Homo sapiens: one gene and its partner. The protein of the gene in region 1 purifies or fractionates together with the protein of each later gene. This does not show direct contact. Each region holds a gene or a part of one and is shown on either strand. Other genes may lie near its edges.

What was found. Proteins that work in one complex are often made in the same cells at the same time.
Region 2: the proteins of ARHGAP35 (region 1) and PRP4K purify together in Homo sapiens (affinity purification with mass spectrometry, with the first as the bait; one large-scale study listed by BioGRID). This does not show direct contact.

What each region holds. Positions count from the first base shown.
Region 1 is NC_000019.10:46,912,997-46,916,496, reverse strand, and holds part of ARHGAP35 (rho GTPase-activating protein 35), read right to left. Parts: intron 1-3,500.
Region 2 is NC_000006.12:4,034,800-4,038,299, forward strand, and holds part of PRP4K (serine/threonine-protein kinase PRP4 homolog), read left to right. Parts: intron 1-2,597; coding exon 2,598-2,771; intron 2,772-3,500. UniProt on the Homo sapiens protein: Serine/threonine kinase involved in spliceosomal assembly as well as mitosis and signaling regulation. Connects chromatin mediated regulation of transcription and pre-mRNA splicing.

The DNA.
Region 1 (3,500 bases):
AGCATATTAAAAGGTCCCCAAGCCCAGCCTTTCAGATTCGGGAAAGCCTTTCTGTAGGAAGTTCCATCTCAGGTGAGACCTGAAGTATGAAGTGCATTTAAGACAGAGGGACAGAGTGTGCACAGACCCTTCCCTCCGCAAAAAAAAGCACTGCCAGTTGGGAGAACCAACTGGAACAAAGTGTGTGTGGGGAAAGAATGGGTAAGATGCATTAGCAAGGAACCAGGGACTGGATCAAACCACTTTAAGAGTTTGGATTCCTTCGCTGGGCGCGGTGGCTCACGCCTGTAATTCCAACACTTTGGGAGGCCGAGGCGGATGCATCACGAGGTCAGGAGATCAAGACCATCCTGGCTAACATGGTGAAACCCCGTCTCCACTGAAAGTACAACAAATTAGCTGGGTGTGGAGGTGGGCACCTGTAGTCCCAGCTACTCAGGAGGCTGAGACAGGAGAATGGAGTGAACCCGGGAGGTGGAGCTTGCAGTGAGCCGAGACACGCCACTGCACTCCAGCCTGTGCGACAGAGCGAGACTCCATCTTAAAAAAAAAAAAAAAAAAAAAAAAGAGTTTGGATTCCTTCCTGAAGGCTATGGGGAACCACAGAATGTGGCCAAAAAAATGGCACCTTAAAGAACCTAAAGTTTTAACAGCTTAAGTTAAACAAACTGTTATGGCTTACAGTCTTTAGCAACTTTCCAGCTACGACAGTTTATGCTGCACTTCAGTTTACTTAGATACTCCAATATAACTGTGCAAGCACTGAACCTGCAGCCAAATGAACATTCTCTCAAGACAATCACAAAGAGGAGAATCTGAAATGAACAGAGCAATTTTCTTCTGAATCTCATTTATGTCTGTAGGAACCTAGGCTTGCCATGACCTCATTATGTTTTTGTAAGCCTATTGCATAAGAAATGCCACTGGAAGTCAGACCACCACGCATTATTCTGACTGACACCAGGGAGCAATGAATGGGAGAGTGCAATTGTCCCCTGTGATGATAACCTCAAAAGGTCACAGACCTTTTCCAAACATCCATAGCTTCCTTCTGATATCCCAGAAAGCCAAACCCTCTATGGAAACAAAATGTGACTAGACGTAGTATGCAAAAACTACATTTTAAAAAGAAAAATCTCAATGACTGTAGGCAATTGCCTCCAGATAATGGCATGTTCCTAAAGATGCCATGTTCTAGAATTCAGCAGGAACAAGCAAGGTATCCACGGGAAAGAAAAACAAACCTTTCGCATCCTCTACTTTTCTAGGCGATTGCTTACATAAACAAAATTATAAGATGCTTATGAATATCTAAAGCATGTTTACACACATCCTCTGAAATACCTAAAGGAAGCATCTGTACACAATCAATTACTCTGTAATATGCACATATAATTTTGTTTCAATCCATGAAGAAACTTAGGTTGAACAGAGCCTCAGACAGGAGTGCTGATGAAGGGTTGAGGAAGTCATGGGTCCTCATCTAACAGAGTCCTTCTCTATCAATTCCTGACCCCAGGGTCTGTCAGGTCTTAAGGTTACCAATCTTGAAATGCAACTTGGTAGCACTGGTCCTACTTAAAGTGACCTCTGCATGCAATTGGCAAGTCATCCCTTGTCTGTGACTCAACTGTTCTCTGTAAAGTGGGTCTAATATTTATCCCTTCACAGAAATCTGAAGGAAAAACAGAACAAAACACCAGCCTGCTCTCAAACCTCAAGAAATAAAGATATTGGCTCTATTTTGAAATGAACTAAAATGTATTATCCATTCAACACCTTGGTTATATTTTTTAATGGCATATTTTCAGTTATTTGAAGGATGCTAAAGAAAGCAACACTCAACTCTGAATAATGTAGAACTGATTATTTTATTTTATGAGATGGAGTCTTGCTCTGTCACCCATGCTGGAGTGCAGTGCTGTAATCATAGCTCACTGCAGCCTCCAACTCCTGGGCTCAAGTGATCCTCCCACTTCAGCATCCCAAGTAGCTGGGACTACAGGTGCAAGCCATCATGCCTGGCTAATTTATTATTATTATTATTATTTAGAAATGGGGTCTTGCTATGTTGCCCAGGCTGGTCTCAAACTCCTGGCCTCAAGCAATCCTCCCACTCACACCTCAGCCTCCCAAAGTGCTGGGATCATAGGCACGAGCCACTGTGCCCAGCCACGACTGTTATTTTTAAACCCAGAATGCTGCTGATCATTAAAATAGCTACAAAAAGTGAAAATCAGCTGGCATGGAAGTGGTTAATTTTGGGACACCTGGTAACTTTCCACTTGTTAGAAACCTAATAAGTTTCTTGGTGTAAGTATACTCTTCTTAGCTTTGATGTCTAGATAATGCAGTTTTACTAGTTCCTCAATTGGACTGAATTACACGGTAAACAAAGACTGTTATAAATCTAAAAACATCTCAAACACTTGGTTTAGAGGAAATAACTTTAAGTGCTTGGTCACAAATACATTCAACTTAGTTCTAAGAGGTGGGTAAAAAAAATTAGCTGAGTCACTAAATTTAATGATCTGAAGGCCACAAAGAAAGAGAAAGTAGGAGACCGGGCATATCCAGACTTCACAATGTCTTTAGAGTTTAAATGTGATGGGAACCAGTGTTCTTAGCAGGCAACTAAGATACACAACAGAATCTGAATGTCCATTCTAATAATTTTCCAGTGCTAATCCTTTTTAAATGGAAGAGTTAAAACAGAGGGGAAAGAAGGATCCTTTAAAAATGGTAATTACTTTTATCTTTGAGCTGTACAGAGATATTTCATTAGAAAAACAGAAACACAGGACTTCAAAGTTTCCCATTTTATGCCAAGAGTCAACTACTTCAGAGAGGAAAATACTTCAGAAGTATTTTGGTTTCTCAGTCACAAATACATGCTGTAATAAAACATAATGCAAATATCTACGTGCCTTCTTCAGACTGTCACCAAGCATCTAGAGTTGTTTGTGATTTGTTTAACCAAGACACAAGGTCCCCACCAGAGTGCCGCAACTGGAAGGTAGAAGGAGGGTGTTTTCTTTTTTAACACCTCTATGAAACACTCAGGGCAAGAAGTGGTAACATTCCCAAGATAGCACACATTTTTGTAGGACCTAGAAATGCCACCGTGATCCCAGATTTACTATGACTGGGAAAGTTCATACTGTCAACAGCTCTATCAGCATACGCCTGGAAGTGTGTGTATCACTCTTCCAACACAGCGTGTGTATCACTCTTCCAACACAGCAACCTCATCCCTCTCTCCCCGAAGTAGGAAATGTTTGTGTGCTCTGTAATCTAGAATGCCCCCTAAGACAAAAATCTTCCACCATTATCCATAATAAAAATGACCATCTCCACCTGAGAATATTCAACAACTTCTGAAAACACACTGAGTTTCAAATAATCACATACAGAACACCACCAACTAGTAACACTGTAAGGAAATAATTTCATACAGAACTACAAGCAAAGGAAGTAAAATACTTGTTATCACAATTTTC
Region 2 (3,500 bases), on another chromosome or scaffold:
CCTCCTGGGTTCAAGCGATTCTCCTGCCTCAGCCTCCCAAGTAGCTGGGATTACAGACACGCACCACCATGCCCAGCTAATTTTTGTATTTTTAGTAGAGACAGGGTTTCACCATGTTGGCCAGGCTGGTCTTGAACTTCTGACCTCGTGATCCGCCCACCTCGGCCTCCCAAAGTGTTGGGATTACAGGCCTGAGCCACTGTTTATTTTCATTGCATTTTAGCAGACAACACTCTGTTCTTTTTATACTAGTTTACTTTATCCCATCCATTTATATATACATATATATACACATATATGTGTGTTGTTTTTGTTTTGTTTTGTTTTGTTTTTTTGAGATGGAGTCTCGCTCTGTCGCCCAGGCTGGAGTGCAGTGGTGTGATCTTGGCTCACTGCAACCTCTGCCTCCTGGGTTCAAGCAATTCTCCTGCCTCAGCTTCCCCGAGTAGCTGGGACTACAGGTGTGCGCCACCACGCCCGGCTAATTTTTTTTTTTTTTTTTTTTTTTTTTTTTTTTTGATATTTTTAGCAGAGATGAGGTTTCCCCACGTTGGCCAGGCTGGTCTCGAACTCTTGACCTCAGGTTATCTGCCTGCCTTGGCCTCCCAAAGTGTTGGGATTACAGGCGTGAGCCACCGCACCCAGCCCATTTATATTTTTTAACTGGTCTTTTGAGGCTGTGCGTGTATGTGAGCAGATTAAATAAAAGAGTTTCCTCAGATGGCCCTATCAAGAAGTAAGCACTACCAAGAAGTAAGCACTACAGATCTGAATCAAAGTCTACCTTGCTCATTTTGGCTGGATCAGAGAAGGATTCTTGGGTTCTGTATACCGTGCTGAAACATGCAAGGCAGGTTGTGTTTTTAGGTTTTTATTAAATGAGGAAGGCAAGTTGCAGTGGCTCACGCCTGTGTTCCAGCACTTTGGGGAGGCTGAGACGGGTGGATCACCTGAGGTCAGGAGTTCGAGACTAGCTTGACCGACATGGAGAAATCCTGTCTCTACTAAAAATATAAAATTAGCTGGACGTGGTTGCTCATGCCTGTAATCCCAGCTACTCAAGGCTGAGGCGGGAGAATCTCTTGAAGCCGGGAGACAGAGGTTGCAGTGAGCCGAGGTCACACCATTGCACTACAGCCTGTGCAACAAGAGCAAAACTCCATCTCAAAAAATAATAATAATAATAAATGAGGAAAATACTGTAATATTATTTGATTATGGAGACAAACCTATTTACAATCTGACTGTTCAGATTGAATAGTTGTGACCAAACCTGGAATAACATTAAGAAATGTTCAAAACCTGTTTTAAAAAATTAAGCTGTAGAAAGGCCTGTTGTAATACAAATATCACATTAAACAAGAGTAAAACTCACTGAAAGGTACTTGTGTGATAAGTGTTGAAAAGTTGGGTTTTTGTGGGGTTTTTCTGGGGAGACTGGAGGCAGGGTCACACTCTGTCACCCAGGCTGGAGTGCAGTGGCATGATCTCTGCTCACTGCAACCTCTGCCTCCCAGGCTTACACAATCCTCCCACTTGAGCCTCCCTATTAGTTGGGACTATAGGCACATGCCACCACACTTGGCTAATTTTGATATTTTTTGTAGAGATAGGGTTTCGCCATGTTACCCAGGCTGGTCTCAAACTCATGAGCTTAAGTGATCCATCTGCCTCAGCTTCCCACAGTGCTGGGATTACAAGTGTGAGCCACCACACCTAGCTATTGTTTTTGTTTTTTTGAGACAAGTTCTCACTCTGTCACTTGGGCTGCAGTGGCACAAACACAGCCACTGCAGCCTCAACCTCATGGGCTCAGGCGGTCCTCCCTCAGCCTCTGAAAGTGCTGGGATTGCAAGTGTAAACCATTGTGCCTGGCCTATTATACTTGACATTAAAAAGAAGATTTTTGCCCGGGCATGGTGGGTCACACCTGTAACCTCAGCACTTTTGGAGGCCAAGGGAGAACCACTTGAGGCCAGGAGTTCGAGACCAGCCTGGGCAACATAGTGAGACCCCCATCACTACAAAACAAAATATTAGTCAGGTGTGGTGGCATGCCCTTATGGTTCCAGCTGCTCAGGGGGGCTGAAGTGGAAGGATTGCCTCAGCCTGGGAGGTCAAGGCTGCAGTGACCCGTGTTTGCGCCACTGCACTCCAGCCTGGGTGACAGAGTTAGACCCTGTCTCAAAAAAAAAAAAAAAAAAAAAAGATCCTTAATTGGAGAAATGTCAGGATGTAGAAAGAAAAAGTCGTCAATGAAAATGGAATATTTGAGTAAATGGAGTATTATACTCACTTGGGGAGGTTTTATTTGAGTTGGTTTATTTGAAATTAGAATCAGTGACTTTACCGGTATGAATAACCTTTAGTAATTTTTCAAACTGTGGGACCAGAGGAAATAAGACCTTTCATTGTTTGCCTGCAATAACACCAAAATATCACTGTAGTCACCTGAGTAAGTTTTGTTACAAAACACATTAATCAAAGTTCACTTTCTTTAGGCTAATGTGCCTTTTCTTACAGATGTTCTTTGCATATAGAAAAAAATCATTTACTTTGATTTATATTTCTTTTAACTTGCATTTGATCCCCTTAAGAACACGACCTCGAGATGATATCCTCAGTAGACGTGAAAGATCAAAAGATGCCAGCCCCATCAATAGATGGTCTCCAACCCGAAGAAGAAGTAGATCTCCCATTAGAAGGAGGTCTCGTTCCCCACTCAGACGTAGCAGGTCTCCAAGAAGAAGAAGCAGATCTCCTCGGAGAAGGTAAAGACATTTCATCCTTGTGATTCATTAAACTCTGAATGTTTTTGAACCACCAGTGAGCTCACTTGGTAGGTTTTCTTTTAGACCAGTTTTCTCTGAAAAATCGTAGTTGTGTTCCCATAGTTTCCTTTTACCAGCAATCTCTACACATGGGTTTTCTTTTATATCGTTTCCTTTGAATTTTAAACAAATCATTGCTCATTTAGGATGCAATAAAATTAGTCTTTTAAAAATAGGACTTTTTTCTCTCTTTTATCAATCAATACTAAATGAGCCAGACTTAGGGATTTTTTTTTTTTTTTAACCAGCAAGGTAGATCATGTAGTAGTAAATATATAGCCCAGTTTCTTACATTTTATATTAATTTTGCATATTGATAGTTACTGTAGACTTAGGCAAAGGCCTATTTAATTTGCCATAGAAACCATTTTATCTGAAGCATATGTAGTCAGTAATAGGTTAAAAAGGTGGTTTATAAAGCAGGGAATCATTTTTTAAAATTCATACATACATGAAATATTTTAATATAAAACATAAATGGGTATTTGTTTGCCAATCTTTTAACATTTTTAATTGAAGTAATAAATGAATATAATTTTTAAGAAACAAAGGCTTATATTATAGCCATCTTTACATATCTCTCAGAATTTTTGTATGCTGTATTCCTAGAAATGGAAATGCATGGTCTGAGTGCACTCTGGTCAATGAGGGGTTTTATTTTATTTTATT